Homo sapiens: one gene and its partners. The protein of the gene in region 2 interacts with the protein of the main gene of each other region in a biochemical or structural test. Each region holds a gene or a part of one and is shown on either strand. Other genes may lie near its edges.

Region 1 (8,909 bases), on a different chromosome or scaffold from region 2:
TACAAACAAAGCTAAGCAAAAAAACTAAATAAATAATAGCACCAACTTCCACATCTCTTAAACATTAAAGAGATGAAAATGTATGGAGGGAAATGCAACAGATAGGCACCCAAAAGATAAGAACAAGAATGTTAATAGCAGCATTGCTTACAATAATCAAAACTAAAAACAGCTCAATGTCTATCAAGAGTAGAATAGATAAATAAATTATGGTATATTTATGTAATAGAAACTCAAGAAACTATCACTACACTTGACAACATGAATAACCCTCACAAAGCTAATGTTGTGAGAAAGAAGCCAGACTCAAAAGAGTGTGTAATGTATGATCCCATCTACCTAAAGGACAAAACTTAGGAAAATTAATCTCTGGTGTTAGAATTCAGGTTACCTTTGGGCAGGAGTAAGGAGAAGAGATTTAGGAGAGAATCTGGGAGGTTTCTGAGTACTGGTGATTATCTACTTTTTTGTCTGAATGGTGAATACAAGGGTATGTACACTCATCTTTTGCATTCTTTTCTGAATATACTTTATACTTAAATAAAAACTTATTTAGAAGTTATCTAGGATTAAGAAACCACTGTTAGACTGAATTTGAGCATTGAGTTGATGCTTATCAAATCAATGAAGTCTCACCAGCAACCATAAACAGATCAGTCTTATTTACTTATTATATTATTTTTTAATCCAGTTTTAATTTTACAATAGATTTAGATTTACAGAAAAGTTGCAGTGAATAGACTGACATTTACAGAAGAATTGCAATGACAATACAGAGAGTTCCATACATCACTCATCTAGTTTCCCCTTATTGTTAAGAGCTCATGTTACAATAGTATGTTTATTACAACTAAGAAATCAGCACTGGTGTGTTATTATTAAATAAATTCTACTCTTCATTCTAATTTCACTAGTTTTTCTACTAACGTCCTTTTTCTGTTCCAGGATTTCATTCAAAATATCATATTAGATTTTTTGAAAAGATAAGTAAAATCGACAAACCATTAGCCAGACTAAGAAAAAATGAGAAATGACCCAAATAAACAAAATCAGAGATAAAAAAGGAGACATTACAACTGATACCAGAGGAATATAAAGATCATAAGAAACTATTAGGAACAATGATATGCCAACAAATTTGGTAACCCAGAAGAAATGGATAAATTTCTGGACACATACAACCTACCAATACTGAATCATGAAGCTATAGAAAATGTGAACAAATCAGTAACAAGTGGCAGATTGAATTAGTATAAAAGGTCTCCTATTAAAGAAAAGCCCAGGACATGATGGCTTTACTTCTACCAAACATTTAAATAACAAATTGCAATTCTTCTCAAACTCTTCCAAAAAACTGAAGAGGGGGAAATACTGCCAAGGTCATTCTATGGGGCAGGCATTACCCTGATAGCAAAATCAGGCAAGGACACAACAAAAAAACAAAGCTTATAGGCCAGTATCCCTGATGAATATAAATGCAAAAATCTTCAACAAAAGAGATCACTAACGATGGTCAAGAAGGATTCATAGCAGACATGCAAGAATGATTCAACATAAAGCAAATTAATAAATGTGATACATCACTTTAACAGAATGAAGGACAAAAACCACATTGATCATTTCAATAGATACAGAAAAACATTTGACACAATTCGTTATTTTTCTCTGATAAAAGCTCAATGAATTAGGTATAAAAGGAATGTACTTCAGTACAATAAAGGCCATATATGACAAGTCCCCAACAGCTAATACACTGAATAGACAAAAGTTGAATGCTTTTCCTCTAAGAACCAGAACAAGACAAGGATGCCCGCTTTCTCACTTCTATTCAACATAGTACTGGCAATCCTAGCTAGAGCAGTTAGGTAAGAAAAAAATAAGGCATCTAAATTGTATAGAAGTTAAACGGTCCTTGTTTGCAGATGATATGACCTTATATATATAGAAAAACCTAAAGACTTTACTAAAAAAAACTGTTATAATAAATTTAGTAAGTTTGCAGGATGTAAAATCAACATACAAAAATCAGTAGCATTTCTATACACAGAAAGCACACTATTTGAAAAAGACATCAAGAAAACAATTCCACTTACAATGACTACAAAAACAACCCATAAAATAAAATACTTAGGAATAAATTTAACCAAGGAGGTGAAAGATCTGTACACTCAAACTATAAAACCTTGATGAAAGAAATTAGAGAAGATGCAAAAAATGGAAAGATATTCTGTGTTTATGGATTGGAGGAATAGTTAAAATGTCCATACCTACCCAAAGCAATCTACATATTCAATGCAGTCTCTAACAATATATCAATGATGTTCTTCCCAGAAATAGAAAAAAAAATCCTAAAATTTGTATGGAACCACAGAAAATCCTGGATAGAGAAAACAATGTTGAGCAAAAAGAATAAAGCTGAAGTCATCACAATACGTCACTTCAAAATATATTACAAAGCTATAGCAATCGAAACAGCATGGTAGTGGCATAAAAACAGACACATTAACTAATGGAACAGAATATAGAGGCCAGAAATAAAGCCACACATCTATGGTCAATTGCTTTTTTTACAAAAGGTGCCAAGAACACACAATGGAGAAAGGACAGTCTGTTCAACAGTGTTGGCAAAAACTAATGTCCACACGCAGAAAAATGAAATTAGAACCTTATCTCTCACCATATAGAAAAGTCAAGTCAAAATGGATTAAAGGCTTAAATTTAAGACCCAAAACTATGAAACTTCTAGAAGAAAGCATAGGGAAAAGTCTCCATGACATAAGTCTGGGCAAGATCTTATCTTTTTGGTTAAGATCTGAAACACATAGGCAACAAAAGTGAAAATAGACAAATGGGATAACATCAAGCTTAAAAGCTTCTGCATAGCAAAGGAAACAATCAAGTGAAGAGACAACCCACAGAATGGGAGAAAATATTTGCAAACTATTTATTTAACAAGGGATTAATAACCAGAATATTTTATATAAGGAGCTCAAACAACTCAATAGGAAAGCAAAAACAAAAACAAAAACAAAAACAAATAATCCAATTAAAAAATGGGCAGAAGATCTGAACAGGCATTTCTCAAAAGAAGACATACAAATGGCCAACTGGTATATGAAAAAATGCTCCTTATCACTAATCATCAGATAAATGCAAATCAAAACAATGAGATATCTCACCCCAGTGAGAATGGCTTTTATCAAAAAAAAAAAAAAAAAAAAAAAGCCAGGAACAAAAGATACTGGTGAGAATGTGGAGAAAGGGGAACCCGTGTGCACTGTTGGCAGGAATGAATATTACTAGAGCCACTGTGAAAAACTGTTTGAAGATTCTTCAAAAAACTAAAAATAGAACTACTATATGATTCAGCAATTCTACTATTGGGTATAGATCCAACAGAAAGGAAATACATATATCAAAGAGATATCTGCACTTCTATGTTTATTGCAGCACTATTTACAATAGCCAAGATTTAGAATTGACCTAAGTGTCCGCGCAACAGATGAATGGATAAAGAAAATGGGGTACATATACACAATAGAATATTATTCAGCCATAAAACCCTCCACAAAATCCTTTTATTTGCAACAAACATGGATAGAACTGGAGGTCATTATGATGAGTGAAATAAGCCAAGCACAGAAAGGCAAATAATGCATGTTCTCACTCATATGTGGGAGTTCAGAAAGTGGATCTCAGAGACTGAGAAGTATTGGGGGGGTGGGCCATGGGGGAGCAAGGGGAGGTAAACATACACTTAGAAGAAACATACACTTAGAAGAAATAAGACCCGGTGTTCCATAGATCAGTAGGGTGACTACAGCTAACATTTATCAATAGTACATGTCAAAATAGCCAGAAGAGAACAATTTGAATGTTCCTAGCACAAAGAAAAGATAAATATTTAAGGGGATGAGTAACCCAGTTATGCTGATTTGATTACAGAAATGAATCAAATTATCACATATACCCTGAAAATATGTACAGCTATTATGCATCAAAAAGTTGAAGAAAATAAAAATTTTAATTTTTTTGTATACAATGTATATTGCATATCATATATTGATTCTGTTCATATATAAGTAAATATCCTTACTGGTTTGCCTCATTGGAGCATTCAGACAGCAAATAATGTGTAGTTCAACATTTTATTAAATATTTTCCATCTTAGTGGATATTTTGTAACAAGATAAATATGATGCAAACTAAAAAAAGTGCCAAGGGCGGGCGCGGTGGCTCACGGCTGTAATCCCAGCACTTTAGGAGGCTGAGGCAGGTGGATCACAAGGTCAGGAGATCAAGACCATCCTAGCCAATATGGTGAAACCCCGTCTCTACTAAAAATACAAAATATTAGCTTGGCGCCCTTGTAGTCCCAGCTACTCGGGAGGCTGAGGCAGGAGAATCGCTTGAACCTGGGAGGTGGAGGTTGCAGTGAGCCGAGATCGCGCCACTGCACTCCAGCCTGGCGACAGAGCGAGACTCCGTCTCAAAAAATACATAAATAAATAAATAAAGTGCCATACTGAATCTACCAAAAATAAATCAAAATGAGTAAGAGAGGCTGCCAGACCATCTTCTTCATCAGAGGTAATGGTCAGAGGCTTCTGAACGTTGGTATGGAAATGAGCCTGCAGGCAGGATTTGTATGCAGGGAAGAGGAGGTTTGTAAACTAGGTGAATTATACCTTCAGAGTGCATATAATGTATATTATACTTTTCCTCTACGTATGCGTACCAGCCGTATTACCTATGTATCATCTGATCCACCAAGTCTGGACTGAAGAAGTCCTTGTAGGACCACACTACACATGGCGAGCCGGTACTCGGAAGGGATTATTCCGAAGAGGATTTGTAGACACTACCCGCTGTGTATGACCTAGGCCCTTTACACGGGCACCACTGGAGCTAGGAAGCCAGCAGAAAGCTCCTCCCCCTGGCCTGGGAGCGGGCTGTCCGTAGGACCCAGAGCACCTCCCATGGGAGAAACGCCCGGCTTTGCTTCTGGCCCCGCCCCGCCTCCCTCCAGGCCCCGCCCCGCCTCCCCGGCCCCGCCCCAACCCCGCGGCCCCGCCCCTCCTCCCCGGCTCCGCCCCGCCTCCCCGGGCCCGCCGCTCCTCGCGGCCTCCGCGTCTTCCTTCCGGGTCGCGCTAGGCCGGGCTTGCGGCGGTTGTGCCGCATCTAGAGAGTCGGGGAGCCGCCCCCGCACCCAGGCCTTCTCGCGCTGCCTGGTCGCTGGTGAAGCCCGCGGCGCGCGCCTCTCCCGGACCCTGCAGGGTACGGCCCTTCCTTTACTTCTCCCTCCCGTGGGTCTCTGTCTTCTTCCTTTGGCGCCGGGGCGGGGCCGGGGCCGAGCCAGCGCGCAGCTCCGCGCTTTGGGGAGTCTGGACGCCTGGCAGAGGCCCCCGCTGCCCGCCCCTCCCCGCCCGCGGCCCCGCGCCCCCGCGCCTCCGCTTCACGCTTGCGGGGCTTGCTGGGGCCCTTGAGAACTGCTGACGTGCCTCGGGCTCTTTCTACGCTACAGTCTGCCTGCAGGCTGTGAGGCGTCGTTCGGACGTGTGCGCGGCTCAGGGTTGTTTACACCGCGGGGGACTGCGGGTCGCCCCACACCCGCGCTCAGTGCTGCGCCGGCAGCCACGCGTCGGCCACATGCCCGCCTGTGCTTGTGATTCCTGTGCCTGCTGCCTTGATTTCCCTCTGACATCCGATGGTTTTTGCCTAACCAGGCCTGTTTTCTTTCTTCAGGACTGCTACAGGGTGCCCAGCTACAACCTTGTTTCTGTGTTTAGGTTTAGGGGTGCCCCTAGAGTGTGATGATGACCATCTACTTGGCCTCCTTGTCGACATATTTATAACGGGTGGTTTTGGATTTCCTTGATTTCCCAGTAATCATTGCCACAAACCTTCGAGATGCATTCACAGATTGAAATACAGTATACAAATAACTATTATAGAAGGTGAAGATGGTATAAGCCTGTGGTCAGGTAGTTGCGTTGGCAGGATGCCCGTCTGGCTTTGTGCTCCGGAGGGCACATTACCACCAGGTGCAGGGATCTCTGCTTGCTTTGGTCTGTTCACAGACACAAGCTGCCTTTTCTGGTTCTTGCGTGCACTCCTTGGTTTCTTAAGTTCAGCTATAGGTATATATTTTTTTCTTTCAGGCTCACTTCCTGCCTCCATTATCCTGTACCGCATATTGTATCTGTTGGTTGAGTAGAGAGAGATTCATCCAGAGTCATCAGCGCTCCAATAGTCCTTTATCAGATTAAGGACTTGAGGGAAATGTGCATTATGCTTTAGTAGGCACTCTAAAAGTTCCTTGAATTGGATTCTTCTTTCCATACTTATGTTCTGAGTACTAACTTTGTTTTAAACTTCTGCGCCAAAAGTTGGCTTTTCTGAACTCTGCATTTTCAAACTCTTCCCTTCTGTTATTTGAAAATCAGATAAGTCAACTCATTGTAAGATGGATAATTTCTTTACTCACGCCGTGATGAAATAATGCGATTATAGTACTCTGTACAATGGTACATATGGTACTTGCACATATGGTCAGTTAACAAAAACTGCCCCTTCTTTCTTTACTGTGTTAGTCTCATCCTCTTAATGTTGCTGCGGTTAACATTCTCGATCTTAACTTCGCGGATCTAACACAGTGTCCTTTAAAAAAGGCCTTTATCTACATGAATTGTATATAAATATCCACCTCCGTTTTCTTCTAGTATTGTTAATGATCTTATTTATATTTAATGTGAGATAAGAAGGCTCTAACTTTATAATTTTGTTAGTGACTCCATCATCATTTGTTGGAATTCTATTTTTCCCTGCTGATCAGTCCTATAAATACCATAGGCCCTAAATTCCCGTGTATTCTTGGGACTTTCTGAACGGTCTAGTATTCTTTGGCTCCCTGTGGTGATCCTGGCTTCTGTGATGCTCTTATTGCTCTAGGTTTATAATGTGTTTTAATATCTAGGGATTTGAACGATGCCTGGCATATTGTAGACATCACTAAATATTTTTGAAATGAACACATTTAGTGGGGGCAAGTTGATTCCCTTTCTTTACCTCTTGCCTCCCTCCCCCCTTTAAAATTTTCCTGCCAGTTATTGAGATTCATTTATTTTAGCTTGCTTTTTCCATGGTCAGTTGAATCATTAACTGTTAGTAAATAAATCCCTTCTGTTGCTCATTCAGAACTTGCGACTAGAGTTGCTCCTTACAGTTACATAGAGAAGCAGCCTGATTAAAAATCTGCATGCCTTTTGACTTTGCACCGTGTCATAGTAACTGTAGTGTGTCTCTCCCCATCACCTGTGATTTAGGATGTTCTGTACCTGGTTTCTAAGAGAAAAATGGTTATCTAAGAGATAAATGGCTGTAGAAGTGTTCCCTGGGATATGAGGAAGATATCCTCATATCCATTTGTATTTTACCATCACAACTGGATATCTAAAATATAATAAATTTTACACTGGACACTTAAAACTTTATTAGCCCATGAAATAAATGTATGCATTCTTTAAAAAAGATCAAGCAATACAGAAATCCTTAAAGGAGGAAGTGAAAGTGCTGTGTGCCCACCTACCCAGTAACCTTGTTCCATAAAGATGATCACTGCTTGCAGATTTTAAAAATAAATATATTTAAGTCTACTTTTGTTTCATAAATGGCAGTGTACCATCTATAATTTTCTATAGCTTCCACTTAATAATAATTGATAAACATCCTTCTGTGTCAGTGCATATAATAGTATCTTGTCTTTTTTGTAAGTCTTTTGGTATTTCATTGTAGGAATAACCCAAAAGTTATTTAGCCAGTCCCCTGTTGGCATTATTCCAAATTTATTACAAACAGAACTGCAAGGATCATTTTTGTGTTTATTCTGTATACTGTCATGTTTGCATGTTAGTTCATTTCCTAAGATATGGAATTGCTAGGTCAGAGGCTACACATAAGTGTTAAATTATGAGAGATTCTGCCAAAGTGCTCCTCAAAAGTTGTTGGTAAGAGTAAATTTATACAATTTGTTAAAATATTGCTTTTGCCATATCACATTGCCAAGAATTGTCAAGGATCTGAGATCATACCCTACTTGCAAGCTAACAGTTTCATGGAAACTGGCAGAAAATATGAGACTCCTGACTCAGAGACAAAGCACAACAGGAACGGTAGCCAGAGGATCATCTTATGCTGATTTGCTGGAACCCTGATTTCCACAGGGTGATGTGATAAGAGCCCAGTGACACTAGCAGATGAAGTAGGTTATGTTACAGGAGAGGAGTCCTTAGTTTAGGGAACCTGAATCTTTCATAGTGGGCTGCAAATAAAGCTGTCTGATCTTTGCCAGAGAGGGAGACATTATCTTTATTTTCCCACATGGTAAACAAACCTGCCCTCTGTACCAGAGGGAGACATCTCTTTATCTGCCAAGGCTATTTGCTATATAAACACCACTGAAAAGATAAAAAATAAAGGCCGTCAGTGCCTCTACTTATATGATATGCAGAAACTTGAGAGGCCTGCTAAGATGAAATGATTATTTTTTATATTTAGTAATTTTATGGATGAAAAATGCTATTTTATTGTTTTAGTATTGCATTTCTTTGCTTATTGATGAGGTTGACTATCTGTATGTTTGTTGGTCATTTGTATTCGTTTTTACTTGCATGATCATATCCCTTGCTTAGGTTTCTGTTGAAATGTTCCTCTTTTCTAATTGATTTGTAATAGCTCTTTACATATTGTGGCTATTAATGATTTGGTTCACCATTTGCTAGTATTTTCTCATAGTCTATTCTTTAGTGTTTCTTGGGGCTTTTGCTTTATAAAAATCTTTAATATTTATGTTGCCAGTTCTGCTGTTGTTTTCCTTTACGGCCTCTGGGTTTCCACCGGAAGATTATTAA
Region 2 (8,512 bases):
TCACACCTGTCATCCTAGCACTTTGGGAGGCCAAAGCGAGTGGATCACTTGAGGTCAGGAGTTCGAGACCAGCCTGGCCAACATGGTGAGAGAACAACCCCCTCTCTACTGAAAATACAAAAATTAGCCTGGCTTGGTGTTGGGCGCCTGTAATCCCAGCTATTCAGGCGGCTGAGGCAGGAGAATCGCTTGAATCCGGGAGGCAGAGGTTGCAGTGAGCCGAGATCACGCCACTGCACTCCAGCCTGGGTGACAGAGCAAGACTCTGTCTCAAAAAAAAAAAGGGGCGAGGGCGGGGGCTGAGCCATATGTCATTGTTTATCTTGGTGTCTGACAGACCTATGAGGAGTTTGATGTCTTTGGCCAGTCGGTTCCTGCTTGGCTGACATCAGCTCTTACAGAGGTGGAAGTACACTCAGCCTGCATGGGACATCAAAATGTTGCTTTGGGACATCTGCTAGATAGAAAGTATTTTGTGTGGGATAGGGTGAGCTTTCTGAAAAGCTTTTAGATATTGCCATATTTAATTACTCCCTTCTTGCCTCTCACTCTGTTCGTTTTTTTAGCTCATTACACAACACTGTACTGAACAAAACAAGAAGCCTCATTGAATTCCTTGAAGTGATTTTTGGGCAATGGGCAAAACAACTTATTCAGGCATCTAGTACTATCCAAATTGCTGATAAGTCGAAGGACTTTGTTGGGTAAAGTTGCACAACTGAAAAACAGGAGAAGAAATGTACAGATTATCTTGCGTTTGGGATTTTATCTTTGGTTCAGGGGTCAAAGCAGGGTTTCAATAGCAAATTACTGAAGTATTTGAATAGTGAAGTATTTTTGTGATTTTTTTTTAACTTTACCGCTGTGGAGAGACTGTTCACTTTCATTAAAAATTACAGGGCAAATACCCAAACTCCTTCCAAGTCAAAAGGATGTTGTCCAGTTTGTTTTATTGTTAAGAAAACTATCAACTTCCTTAAGAATGTTTGAATAAGATTCAATAGGGCCGAATAAGGAAAATCAAAGTAGTAGTGTAAATCGTAGTATAATTCTTGTTGTTGAGAAGTATAGCCTTTTTTTTCTTTTCAAATTTTCTTGTTCTTTTTTGTTTTTTGTTTTGTTGAGACAGGGTCTTGCTTTGTCACCCAAACTGGAGTGCAGTGGTACAGTCATAGCTCATGGCAGCTTAGACCTCCTGGGCTCAAGTGATCCTCCTGCCTCAGCCTCCCAAGTAGCTAGGACTGCAGGTGTGCACCCCCACATCCAGCTAATTATTTTATTTCTTGTAGAGTTCGAGTTTCACTTTGTCACCCAGGCTGGTCACCGGCTAACTTATTTTTTGTAGAGATGGAGTTTTGCTTTGTTGCCCAAGCTGGTCACAAACTCTTTTTTTTAAATAGAAACATCTTCAAGCACAATGTCCTTGCTTTCTTGTTATGAAGAGTGCTCTTAAGGCCTTCATGGATTGTCACTGCCTCATAATAATGTTTTGAATACCTACGTAACTTGTATGTAAATACATACTGCTGCAAAAAGACCAACTTTTCAAAAATTTATTTATTTATTTTTTTATTTAAGAAGAATGCCAGTAACTCTTGTTGGCCTGGTCTGGATTTCAGCATCAGGTTGGCCTGGTCTGGATTCCTTTCAATAATGAATGAAAAGCTTTGAGGAAAGAATGTAAATATAATGAAATTTCAAAAGAGTTACATGTGGGCCTTGAAAAGTTAGGGGGAAAGATGAGGAGAAATACTCTTCATTCTCTCCTCCCCTTGTCCCAAAGCTCCTCTCTTCTTCTTCTTGCAAGAGGATTGAACTAGTGATTATAAAACTGTAAAGATTATACAACATACGGCAATGAGTATAATCACAATTATTGGACCACCCTTCACAGTCTATTATGTTAGAGAACGGAGAAGCATTCACAGAAGTTTCTCTGAATCTCTTAGTCATTCCCAAAAACCCAAACCAGAAAATATCTCATGTCATTGTATGTTATGTACAAATTGGCATAAGGAACAGCTCTTAGTTTGTAAAGTCTTTTAGATAATGGAGAAAGCTTCCAGCTTTTAGTTTTCAAGCTTGATCATTAGGAGGAGAATTCACTCTGTGGTTGTTTTCTACTTTGTGTTGCTTGGACAGCACAAACCTCTTATCTAGCCTTGTTTCCTTTCCAAGTAAAAAGGGACTTTGTGAGGATTGGTAGAGTTAGAACACTAAGAAATTCTGAGGCTGTAAATCAGGAACAAATCGGGTGATGGGAAACAGACGTGTTGTTCATCTATTGAGGAAGACACATTTGCTTTTTTATGTGTTACTCAAAAGATTAATATGTAGCCTCTTAATGCCTGTGTACATAACTTTCTCTGTACCACTATGTATTTCCATAGATGATATTTTTGAAAGAGAATTACCCTTAATTAATTAAAGGAAATCTACACTTTTAAGGCTGTTAATACCTATTGTCAAATTATTCTCCAGAATGTTCACTGAAGCCCTAATTGTAATAACAAAGTATTAGAAACAACCATCTCAGTAGTAGTTAACCATTGCCATTTAGATAATGGTTAAAGTATGGTATATCTTTATAAAAGATGAGATGCAATGCAGTTGTTCAAAAGAATGAATGTCAGTATATATTGATAGGGAAGACATCTGAAAAACGACTTACAGAATATGTCAGTATGTGTGTATGGTACAGTTCCATTTCTTTATAAAAACAAAAGCAAAAACAGACCTATATTTCATTGACAAAAACTCTGCAAGTCTCCATGTGAAACTGTCAAAAGTGGCTCCTTTGGGAGTAGGAACGGGAGGTTGGGAGAGATGTTAATTTTTAATTTTATGTACTGATGTTTACGTTTTCTAGGAACACATTTTTCCAGTAAGGAATGGTTTTTCTATGATATAGAATATAATTGTAGTAGCTAAAACTTTCTTAGGGACCTTTCTTATTGTTCTGCGTGCTATATTCATTTAATCCTCCTAACAAAGTCTTCGAGGTAGATACAGTTATTATCTCTATTTTATAGATGAGAAAACTGAGGCACAAAGAGGTTAAGTACCCTGTGCGAGGGTAACAGCTATAACTGAGAGTGGGAGCCTGGCTTCAGTCTCAGCCCCTGACCACACTATACCAGTGTATCCCAAGTACAAATTGTCCGCCTTAAGTAGAAATGCTTTCAGTTATGATTCAGGGTGTGGAGGCCACAGCAGAGATCACTTTTACTAAGCTTTTCTAGGTATGTCTCTTTCAGGTTCCAAAAGTATATATTGGATTATGATTGCTTATGTGTTTTTAATGAAGAAAATAGGATCCAGACATTGATTTGAAAGTCCTTCAAAAAAGTAAAAACCAGGTTGGGAGCAGTGGCTCATACCTGTAAGCCCAGCACTTTGGGAGGCTGAGGTGGGAGGATTGCTGAAGCCCAGGAGTTTGAGACCAACCTGGGCAATGTAGGGAGACCCTGTCTCTACTAAATAAATAAATAAATAAATAAATAAATAAATAAGTCGGGCATGGTGGCATGTGCCCTGTAGTCCCAGCTTCTTGGGAGGCTGAGGTGGGAGGATTGCTTGGGCCCAGGAATCAAGGCCGCAGTGAGCTGTGATTGTGCCACTGTACTACAGCCTGGGTGACAATGCAAGACTGTCTCAAAAGAAAAACAAAAGTAAGGACCAGAAAACCTGATATTGTTTGTTACACCCTTTTTTCTCTTCGATTGCCTACTTCAAGTGAATATTAATTGTATTTTAGGGAAGACTGACTTCCACAGAGACCTATCTGGAACTCCTGGTTCCTTACCTCTGCTTCTGTCAGAGCAGCTCTGGGTTTTGGTTTGTTACTATTGTACACATTAGGCTTCTATACAAGAAGAACTGGTCCCATTGGTTTAAAAATAAGTTTGAAAATCCTAGAAACAGTGAGAGTCAGAAAAAAAAACTGTTTTTATATACATATTCTCTCCCCCACCCCCTTTCTCTCCAGTTGAAATATGTTGCAGAGCTCTAAATTTAGGGATGCTTTTGGCGTATTTCTTATACACTCCAGAGGCACTCGAGATAAATTATCTTCAATGTTAGATCTCTCTTAGCTTTGCTAGTTGTATTTGTTAATCCATTTTGAGTTCTCTAGCCTGTGTCCATTTTATGTGTGTATAGAATGAGGCCATGGAGATGTTGTACAACTGTGTCGTTTGGCAGCAGAGTCCTAAGGAATTGGTGGTGACTATGGGATGGTGGTAGCCACTGGGGCTGCCTCAAATGGAAAGGAAAGGGTTCTAAGTATTTATAAAAGAAAATTCTAGTGTATAACTGAGCATCTTCTATTTACCAGCACTTGATACTACTAAATCGTCACAGCACCCCGGTGTTATTATTATCTCTGTTTACAAATGAGGAAGCTGAAGCTCAGGTCACACAGGTAGACAGGAAGTGATGGGGTCAGATTCCCAGCTAGGTCTGCCTTGGAGCTTTCCTTCTTGTGAGGGTGATGTTCAGTTCACTCTGGAACTGGTGTAGCCATCGCCACATTTAGAGTGCATTTTAGAGTTTGAGCCAGTTTTGATGATTTTACTTCAACTTACTGATGGAACTCCTTGTTCATCCCTGGAACTCTCTAACACTTCTGCTGGGAGTTTAGAGGGATGGCCACACCAAGCTGCTTGGGTACATTTTCTAAAACAAAATTTATTGTAAGAAATGGAAATTATGAACAAAATATACCACTATCTCTTTTTGCTGTGAAGTTAAGTTTATTGGCTACTGTTAACAATTTATTTACTTACTTACTTACTATTCTTTTGTAGAGACAGGGTCTTGCCATGTTCCCCAGGCTGGTGTCAAACTCCTGGATTCAAGCAATCCTGGTGCCTCAGCCTCCCAAAGTGCTGGGATTACATGTGTGAGCCACTGTACCTGGCCTCAACTCTTGTTAAAATTAAAGCACCTTAATACGTTTAGCAAACTCATCAGACCAATAAATATTTTCAAGATGTATGCAGAATTACCAGTGGCACATCCCCTTTTTCTGTGGCTCCACCCCTTCAACTTTTTGTCCAAGAAAACTTTTCGTGTTTGCCTGTAGCTGATGTGCAGTTGTTTCTGCTCCCAAATCAACAGGGTTTAATGAAAACCCTAGAAAGTAGAAACCCGTGGGAGAGAAAAGAAAAAAGACAAGTTCACAAGGTATGTTTAGTGTATAAAAAAGGAGAAGGACTAGAAAGCCTGAGATACAAAGGAAATGAAGAAACTAATCAGTGAGATAGAGATAAAGCTTTTTTCTGAATTTTTAGCATTATTACCTGATTTAGTTAACCAGCTGCATTAATTTTATGCTCCTGATTTGTGCACAAATTGAAATTTTTGCTATTGGATTTAGGTTCCCTCTCTAGGAGTTTCTCAGTTGTTTGCACTAAGTAGGATATAGTTGCTAACTTACTTAGATGACCTTTTATGAAATTTGTAGGTGATATATTTATTTCATTTCTGGAGCAGATACAGCTGAGCAGCTTAGGTAGACTATGAAGAAAGTGTGTGTGTATATATACACCAACTAAAATGTTAAAGGTAAATAGCCTAAAAGTAGCAATTTTTTTTTGAAAAGCAACCTGAGTTTTCAGTAGAGTGTTATTATAAACCAAGCTTTACCCAGAGAGAAATTGACTGAAAAACACGTTTTCTGAGATGTTTTAGAGTTTGAGCTGTTTCTCAGTTGATGGCATGAGCTATTTCAGGAACAGAACTATATAGATCTTTAGACTTTTATTACTTCTTATTTATTTTCTTCAGAATACTTTTACATTTGGTTTGAGGAGAGTCAGAATTCTTATCTGGATTCACCATGTTCACATCTGTGTGCACATGACAGATTTCAGTTCTGCTGTGGTTAACTTATCTGACTTGTCCAACAGGTTCCTGGGTGGAGCTACCCATGAACAGCAGCAATGGCAATGATAATGGCAATGGGAAAAATGGGGGGCTGGAACACGTACCATCCTCATCCTCCATCCACAATGGAGACATGGAGAAGATTCTTTTGGATGCACAACATGAATCAGGACAGAGTAGTTCCAGAGGCAGTTCTCACTGTGACAGGTAAGTGAGACCCATGTTTTGGTGGAATTCAGGAAACAGGTGGGTTACAGGGCTCATTCACTCTAGGAAAAATCTGTTTGCTTAAATCTTCACTTAGCAAAATATGCCTCCTGATATATTGTAGTATAATATATATTGCACAGATATATATTGTGTTTATATGAGACAGCTAATTGACAGGTGCTTCAGTGCCCACTGTTTTTCCCCAGATTGTCATTTTTCTTACCCAGATTATATTGTTTCTAGCAGTTTATCAGTTTAAAATTCAGTGGCATAAATGCTAATTTATAGAATTAATCTGACTTTCCCCCATTTTCCTTTGTGTCCCTGTGTTACAGATCACAGACTGTTCTTGAATTAGTTACCTCTGTATATATGTGTCTTCCCTTCTAGATGTTGACGTTGCAAAGGGCAGGGGCCATGTTTAATTTTTATTACCTTCACAGTAATGGTGCTGGCACGTAGTAGACACTCAGTAAATGTTTGATTCATAGGAACTGCAGGTTGCTTCACGTTATAGCAATATTTGCACAGTTGGAAGCACCAACCAAGGTCTGTAAAGATAGTTTTGAAGTCTCCTCTGCTTTCTCAGGGGATGTTTTGTTTCAGACCTCATTTTTCTATATTTGAGCTGAAGAAACTAATTACATGGATTAAGGACTGCTTATGGTGAAAGAGTAAGAATACAACGAGATATGTGTGTGGAATGAAACCAGGTCATTATTTTTTAGTATAAACTTTTCTGTTTTTTTTTTTTTTTTTCAGAAGGGCTAGATATTAAATGACATTTAAGAAATTCTTGTTTCAGTGACAGCTACACTGTTAGCATTATGGGGCACTGGATGACCTTCTGGGTGGTTGTTAACTGATGTTAACCATTTAGAAAATGCAAATGCACGGGAAGCAGATTAAGGAAATGTAAACAGTGACTATTTTTAGGAATGCAGTATGGATATGTTTCTTCTTAACATTTTTGTATTTTGTAAAAATTGTGTATATTGCACATATTATTACTTATCAGAAGAAGTGAAAAAAAGGAGAAATGAGTTAAATCATGTCCAACTTCCTGAGTGGCTTATGATCCACTAATGTTGCCAAGGCAGCGGGGGACTGGTTTGTTGGCTCTGTGGCACACTGTGCACCCCCGCCACCCCCGTGTCATCCCTGACTTGTCCCTGTGCTTCTTAGAGCCTGGGATGGCTCTTGTCATAAGCGGAACCAGAGCAGATGGCTCTCTTCTGAACAGCTTGCCCTTGATTCCAGTAGCTACAGCATTAGTCTGTCTTTCCGAATGAAGATTTATATTTATATTATGGAACTTGCTGATGGGTTTCTCAAGTTTTCTGCTTGTTATGGCCTGTCAACAAGGCTTTCACTCTGCGTTCAGGTGTGTGGGCCTTGATCATTGATACCATGGTGTCCATGAGCCTGTTGTTCACATGGTGCTGTCAATGAGCAGAGAACAGTCACCTGCTTACCTGTCTGTTCATCTTACTTCATTTATGGTGCAGTTTTACGTGTGACTGAATATGCCTTCACCCTCCTATGATCATGTTTAAGTTTAGGTTGCCATGAGGAGGCATGGCAAATGCTTTTGAACACTTTCGTACCCCTCATCTTATGTCTCTCCAGGCCCTAGATTAGTGGTCATCTTTCAGAGAATGGCTAGAACTCGAGTCTTCTGGGATAGCCTACTAACACGCTTTACCATTGAGGAGTGTCTTCAAAACTCACATCATCTGAATTGCCATGCGTCTCTATATGTGAAAAGTAATTGGAAAGTGTTTCTTGTAGGGGGAAATGTTTTAGGGTTGTTGGGTATCAGTCCTAGAGCTGATTTATGTATATTTTCAACTTAAAAATTATTCCATAGAAATATTTGTGTTGCCGCAGGGGTTGTTAGCTGGGAACCCCAGTGTGTTCTGCTTTGCCTTTCACCCTGTCACAGGGGTTTTCACCTTGACGGCACACTAGATTCACCCAGAAGCTTTTAAAAATGGCAGCACATGGACTGCATCTCAAGAACTTCTCATTTTGGTTGACAGGGGCAGGGTAGAGACGTCACAATATTTTAAAAGCTCCCCAGCCGATTCTAATATGTGCCATGGGTGAAGCTCTAATGCATTCCAAATTGTTAGGAGGAGTAAACAGTTTAGAGAAGAGGTTGGTACCAGTGTGAAGAAGCATATAGAAGCAGAGCAATGCTTCCATAGGATTCTTGACTTTGTCACCCTGACTGCCTTGACCTGGTCACGGCTATGTAAGGCTGACCCTTAACTTGATGTGTAGCTGTGAACCCAACAGTTATGAGCACAAAGATAGTAAACTGAGGCCAGTAGGAGTGCCCAGTTCGGGTTGACTCCTGTGCTAGTTCAAGACAAAAATTTCCTAAATATATATGACGTTGGTTTGATAC
Region 3 (7,000 bases), on a different chromosome or scaffold from region 2:
AACCAGGGAAGGACAGATTGTTCAGAATGTGGAAGCAGAAGCAGAAAGGCTAAAGCGCCATTAGGGGGAAACTGAGGCCTGTAGGGGGGTCTCAACATTATTCAAAGGCATCAGAGACAAGATGGAGCAAGGGGTCACTGGCTTCGGGGGTGTGGTGGGGGGATGAGGAGGCAAAGAAGGAAAAGCCAGAGAGAAGTGAAAGGGGCAGAACTGGGGACAAAGGCTGGGCGTGGTGGCTCACTCCTGTAATCCCAGCACTTTGGGAGGCCAAGGCGAGCAGATCACTTGAGGCCAGGAGTTCAAGACCAGCCTGGCCAACATGGCAAAACCCCATCTCTATAAAAAATACAAAAATTAGCTGGGTGTAGTGGTGCACGTCTGTAATCCCAGCTACTCGGGAAGCTGAGGTGGGAGGATTGCTTGAGCATGGGAGGCAGAGGTTACAGTGAGCCAAGACTGCACCAGTGCACTCCAGCCTGGGTGACAGAGTGAGACGCTGTCAAAAAAAAAAAAAAAAAAAAAAGAAAGAAAGAAAGAAAAAGGGTAGAGGAGAGAAGAAAAGACCCAGGAAGAAGGGCCTGGAGGGAGACTTCAGTTTCAAGTGAATTCTGACAGAGGAACCCTGTGTCCCTTTTCCTAGGAGCAGGCAGATCTGGATTCAAAATCCATTTCCATCGCTTATAAGCTGTGTGACTTTGGGTGTTTTACTTAACCTCTCTGAGCTTTTTCTTTCTCTGTAAAAATAAGGAGCAATATCTGCAGTCACAGGGTTGTAGTGAGGAATAAATGAAATTCAGCCATAAAGCTTTGGCACGTAGTTGGGATCCTATAAAGATTGGGCCCCATGGGGGTGGAGAGCGATGAGGACATTGAACTTTGGAGGTAGGAATATGGTCAGACAGCAGAAAGAACGTCCAAACACAAACAGCAAAGGCAGGATGTCTGAGCTATACAAACAAGAGGGTCCTGGCTGGCTGGCGTGTGATGGAGGGTAAGTCTAGTCACACAGGAGGGGAAGAGGAGAAGCCTGCTCATGGCAAAACACAGAAAATTAGCAGAAAACTCCTGGGAGAGGGTTTTAGGTGGTGTGAAAAATGTGGTCTTTTTTGGCAGAGAATGAAGGCAGGGGCTTAATAGGTTTCCTTGTGGAAACGTTTTAAGGGTAGAGGGAAAGTCCGCTGGGGTCTCCGTCCCATAAAGTGGGCTTGTAAAGGCAGCCTGTTAATGCAGCTGGAGGTGGAGGAGGGGGAGACAGGGAAGGAGGGGAAAATGGAGGGGAGGGAGGAAGTGGAAGGGAGGATTCTCAAAGCCACCTCTCTGCCTGCCTCCCTTCCCTTCCAGAGATTCTGGAACTTCCCTCTCCTGGTGTCCTCCGCCCCACCTCCTGCTGAAGGTCCTTTGACTGAAGGGAAAGGGTTCCCATCATTTAGGTCCTGGGAGGAGAGTCCTGGGCTGGAGTCTAGGAAGCAAGAGAGGCAGATTTGGAGGTTCTGGGATAGCTGATGGTTGGCCACCCCCGCCCTGGAATGGAAACCCTGTTAGGCCAGGGCCAGAGCAGGTGGCCATGAAGCAAGACGGCAAAGGCATTGGAGGATGTCCCACCTCCACACATACGCCCAGGCATTTCTTGGCTGGGGAATGGTGTTACAGGATCCACAAGCACAGAGATGGGAAAACAGTGTGTCTGGGGAACACCAAGAGTTGGGGTTGCCTGGAGGACAGATAGACTCAGGGGGGACATCCAGAGGTAACACTAGGTCCGCAGGTGGGTTCAGAGGCCCCAGCTCTATCCCCTTATTCCCAGCCGGATTAAAGAATAATCTGAGTATGGTTCCCTCGAGCCCTCCAGGTGGGCATCGAGTGCCAGGTAGAAGGCAGGGAGTCAGGAAAAGGGCAGGGAGCCCACGGCCCAAAGGCAGCAACTGAGGACTGGGGGCACCGATCAGGGACCGAGACTCCTGACTCAAAAGCATGAGGGAATTCAGACCCTGGACAAGACTGGGGCCAAGGGGCCCAGACCCACCAGCCCAGGAAGATGAGATTCTCTCCCCTCCTGAAAGAAATCCCAGGCAGGGTCGAGCACGGTGGCTCACGCCTCTAATCCCAACACTTTGGGAGGCTAAGGCAGGTGGATCACTTGAGGCCAGAAGTTTGAGACCAGCCTGGTCCACATGGTAAAACCCCATCTCTACTACAAATACAAGAATTAGCCAGGCATGGTGGCATGCATGCACCCGTAGTCCCAGCTACTCAGGAGGCTGAGGCATGAGAATCACTTGAAACCAGGAGGTGGAGGTTGCAGTGAGTTGAGATCATGCCATTGCACTCCCAACCTGGGCAACAGAGCAAAACTCTGTTGAAGGAAGGAAGGAAGGAAGGAAAGGAAAGAAAGGAAAGAAAGGTAAAGAAAGAGAGAGAGAGAAAGGAAGGAAGGAAGGAAGGAAGGAAGGAAGGAAGGAAGGAAGGAAGGAAGGAAGAAATCCCAGGCAGGAATGGGCACAGCTCCCCGTCTCCCCTCCCCTCTGTCACCCCACAGTAAGGACGTCTTCATGGCGCTCTGACCCCCATCCCTGCTGCCTCGGGAAAACTCTGCTTCCTGGTCAAAGCTGGAGAAGAGTTGGCCTGTAGGGAGGAACAGCCACACCCCCAGGATCCCCCAAGGTCAGCCTTCAGGGCAGCCAGGATTTGATCCTCCTCTCCCTTCCCCCAAACACACCGGGGATAAGTGGCAGCCATTGATTTTGCAGTGCAGATGATATTTTTAGCTGGTCTTAGCATCAGCTACTCCTCCCTGCCCAGCCACACTCTTCTACCAAGCCTCTGCCTTCTCCAGAGCTGGGAATGGGCACCCCTTGGAGATCCCCCATGGGGTTCCCCTCCTCCCTCTGCACACTTCCCTTCTCCATTCTCAGCTTCTCGAATCTGGGAGAAGCGCCTCCTACACTGGGTCAGACCCACTTCTGATGACCTTACAGTGGTGGTCTTATAAGGCCTCTACTGGGCATGCTTCTCCCCAGCGCCCCTCCCTTTCACCCCTCTCCTCCCTCCCATTCTTCTCCCCTCCTCCTGCCCGCCACCCTCTACTCACTGTCCAGGCAGGGCTCACACACGGTCTGGTTGGCTCCACAAGGCTGGGCCACACCCTCGCCCAGGTTGCAGGCTTTGCAGCACTCACCGCTGTGTGTGTACAGGCCTGTGGGGCATGCCTCCTTGGCACCTCCAAGGGACACCTGGATGGAGGGAGATCGGAGGGTCAGACTGGCAAGAGAAAGCTGGGGTGGGTTGGGGGGGGTTCTTCCGGGGAATCAAACACCCTCCTCCCACTGCCTTCTATTAGAACCACCTGGGCTGGGATGAGCTCACCAGGGAGGCGTTAGGAACATCAAAGCTGACAGGGGAAAGGCAAGTGAGGGACAGTGTGCCCGTGCAGGCTGCTGGGGGTGTGAGGTCAGAGCTTCAGCTGCTGACCTTCTGCAAAGTTCATCCTGGGGTTACAGCAACTCCTGGAATCCCAAGGATATACCACATGGGGAAGGTGGCCAGAGGCCCAGCGGAGGGCCTACCAACAGGGATGTCATGAATGGTTGGACAGGTTGTAGCTTGCACAGGGCTCCCAGCCAACGGGGCAAGTAGAGCTGAAACCTATCCCAAACTCCATTTGCTAAGCTTTGCACCTGCTGGGTTGTATCTACCCAGAGGAGGGCCTTTTTCTAACAAAGGCCAGCAGGGCCTTACTCCAGGTCCTTAATTCCACATATTAAATAATAAATGGAAGATGTCCATGCCCAAGAGCAGAAAGGAGAGGGCCAGGGTCTTGGGTTTGAATCCTGACTCTACACTGGGGGTCTTGCTTGCCCATCTTCCCTCTGAGTCTTCATTTCTCTACAGAGATGGCAACAGCCTGGTGCCAGGGCAAAAGGCCAGCCATTTGGCAAAAGCCTCGCACCAAGATGGAGAGAAAGGGAGAACTGTTATCAATGATGGGACAGTGGCTGCTCTCACCACCCAGCAGCCCTGCCCTGCCACGGTTTGATTTCCAGCCACCAGTCCTCCCCCTCCCCCATGTGGCCACTGGGAACAGGGCTGGAACCAAGGGAAAGGGGAGTCAGGTTCCTGCCACTGAAGCATCTTTGCTCGTGGATGTAACAATTTAACACCAGATTCCCCAGGGGAAGGGGCTGGTGGAGGCTTGCTTTATATTTCTGTTCCTTTAAAAAAAACTTAATGTCTAATAAAACTCCAAAGCCTGCTTTGCTAGCTCCAGACCATGCAGCCCTCATTTGATGCTGAGAAGTATGGGCTTTGGGGTCGTGGGACCAGAGGGAAGCTTTACAAGCTTGTTTTGGGCATTCTGCTTCTTCTACATTGGCCAGATCATGGCCAAGACACTCCTTTCCCTCCAGCCTTTTAAAATATCCTGCGGCCTCATCAGGGTTTGGTGGGGAAGGAAACAGAGGAGTCAGGGGGATAGACAGGTTGGATCAACCCAGGAGGGAGTCTGTGGTCCTCATGAGACCAGCAGGACAGGCACAGGCAACAGAGGAGGTGGAACCTTGGTGTTGCCGCACCTCCTCCAGGGCAGCAACACACTCAGTGCTGGGAACATCTGCAGACCAGGAGCCTCAGGGTCCCAGATGCAGGCTTTCCCTCAAGAGGCAAGATTCCAGAAGGGCCTGTTCTGATTTCTTTTCATCCTTTAGGGCTCTGCTTAAATGTCACTTCCTCAAGGAAGTGGTCCTGTTGCACCCACCGCTCACAGATTAGGTGGGGCTGCCATGTTACGCATCCAGCCTGTTCTCCGGTTCTCTCTGCTTTTGTCTGGCCTGAACTTTATAGACTCCCTCATTGGACTGTCAGCTCCCTGAGGGAGCTGGATTGCCCCAGGGCCTGATGCGGTATCTGGCATGCAGTAGGGACACAATGCATACACGCGTGGAGTTGAAATACATGAAAATACTGTATGACCTCAATTAACCAGAACTCTGGGAGAGCGACTGTTGGTTAGCCGAGATTCCAGACTGCCAGGCTTTGCTGCCCTCATCATTTTTGCTTTTCACCATGGTGGCTGCACCCTTCCCTGTCTCTGGAGCAAAGCTTCATGGCTTCCCATGACTCAGGGACTCTGTATTTACACCAGCGATTACTCTGGGCTGCAATACAGGGAAACTCTTTTGTTCTTTTCCCAAATTACCACACTTTTGTCTTTTTGAGTTCTCCTGTCAGCCTTTTTTTTTTTTTTAATATAGCTTTTCTGTTTCCTCCCTTCCTGTCAAGGTATCAGTTGTCACTTCTTGCTGCTACCAGAGTGTGACCTGAAGCAACCCTTCCCCCACCACGCTAATCTATTTAAGGTCTAATTGAATCTTCAGAAACTGTGGAACTCGCCTTGGTAGAAAGGCATGTGCCGGCCGGGCGTGGTGGCTTACGCCTGTAATCCCAGCACTTTGGGAGGCCGAGGCAGGCAGATCACGAGGTCAGGAGATCGAGACCATCCTGCCTAACATGGTGAAACCCCATCTCTACTAAAAATACAAAATATTAGCCAGGCGTGGTGGCGGGCGCCTGTAGTCTCAGCTACTCAGGAGGCTGAGGCAGGAGAATCGCTTGAACCCAGGAGGCAGAGGTTGCAGTGAGTCGAGATCGTGCCACTGCACTCCAGCCTGGGTGGCAGAGTGACAGTCCGTCTCAAAATAAATAAATAAATAAATAAAATAAAAATAATAAAAAATATAAAGGTATGTAAATAGGATCTGAACCAGGAGGAGGCAAGCCTCTGAATACAATCTGTGAGCTCTCACGCCACTCTGAATCCTGGCTCCACACTTGTCCTGGGTCATAATTAGGTAATGATGACAGTACCTGCATCATAGGATTGCTGTAAGTATTACACAAGTAAATAAGGTATTTATGTACTTTGGGACCCCTCTTTTCTGTCCTCCAGGGTCTACTTTGTGGCCATTGGCTGTGTTCCAGTTTGTTGGGCTCTGGACAGCTGAGGAGATCTGTCTACAGTGGTCTTGGGTGGTGTGGGGGCTTTGTGCAAATGCCCCTGCCAAGAAACCTGTTCTCCCTGCTGCAGCCTGAGGTCCTCTCTCTTCTCTTAAAAACTGCATTTGGAGTAGGGGCCAGATAATTAGTAACCATGCATTTCCTGTCCTTGTTTTATGTTCCCTATGTTGTAAAATCCTAGATCTGCTTCTTAATAGTATGTTGCTTAGGGTAAATTACTTAATTTCCCTAAACCTCAGTTTTTCTCACCTAAAACATTGGGTTGATAATGTCTATTGCCCAGGATTGCTGGGAGAATTAAGTGAAATAATTTATGCAAATATGTCTGGTCTACAGTAGGAATTTAATAAATGTTAGTTATCAAAGAAGCATCTCATCTTAAGGAGACCCCAGGCAGGAGGGGAGAGTTTAGCCAAGTAGGGAGGGGTGACTAACATTCAGGCTAATTGCTCCAAAATCAGATCCAAAAGGATTAATTTATAGGGATGACAGATAAATTTCCCTGAAATTTGTATGTGTTACACTTAGTCATTTCACATTTGACAGAATGATTTCATCTCATTTTTAAGAACGCTTGTAATCTTTTTGTTTTGGCCATTTCAAGGCTTACAAGGAACTAAGGTGGAAGGATCCTTAGATGAATTGACTTTTAAGAATTTTCATTTTTTTTAATTAGAGAAAAGAGAGAAACAGCGAAACAGTTGAAAGTATTTGAAACCATACGAATGTTTCAGTATAATCAGCCCTGGCCATTCCAACAGCTTCAGCAAAGAGCTCTTAAGTGAATGGGGCCGTGGTCACCGCCATGGGATGGGAGAGATTTTCAAACACCTGGAGGGCCTTTTGAGGTCGATGCAAACCCAGGGGAGGCACTGGCACATACCCCTCACTCCCTTTGGATAGGGGAGGAGTTGGGAGGAAAGGAGCTAATTACCCAAGATAATGTAGCATAGAGACTTGAGAGGGGGCAGGGCCTCTGCGTGTGGAGAAG

The links.
Region 1: the proteins of BNIP3L (region 2) and FBXL4 form a complex in vitro, tested with the Homo sapiens proteins (one study listed by BioGRID).
Region 3: the proteins of BNIP3L (region 2) and NGFR form a complex in vitro, tested with the Homo sapiens proteins (one study listed by BioGRID).

What each region holds. Positions count from the first base shown.
Region 1 is NC_000006.12:98,944,174-98,953,082, reverse strand, and holds the start of FBXL4 (F-box/LRR-repeat protein 4), read left to right. Parts: upstream 1-5,136; 5' UTR 5,137-5,277; intron 5,278-5,480; exon of another isoform or gene 5,481-8,909. UniProt on the Homo sapiens protein: Substrate-recognition component of the mitochondria-localized SCF-FBXL4 ubiquitin E3 ligase complex that plays a role in the restriction of mitophagy by controlling the degradation of BNIP3 and NIX mitophagy receptors.
Region 2 is NC_000008.11:26,385,331-26,393,842, forward strand, and holds part of BNIP3L (BCL2/adenovirus E1B 19 kDa protein-interacting protein 3-like), read left to right. Parts: intron 1-5,082; exon of another isoform or gene 5,083-5,187; intron 5,188-5,912; coding exon 5,913-6,096; intron 6,097-8,512.
Region 3 is NC_000017.11:49,498,293-49,505,292, reverse strand, and holds part of NGFR (tumor necrosis factor receptor superfamily member 16 precursor), read right to left. Parts: intron 3,231-7,000; coding exon 3,089-3,230; intron 1-3,088. UniProt on the Homo sapiens protein: Low affinity receptor which can bind to NGF, BDNF, NTF3, and NTF4. Forms a heterodimeric receptor with SORCS2 that binds the precursor forms of NGF, BDNF and NTF3 with high affinity, and has much lower affinity for mature NGF and BDNF.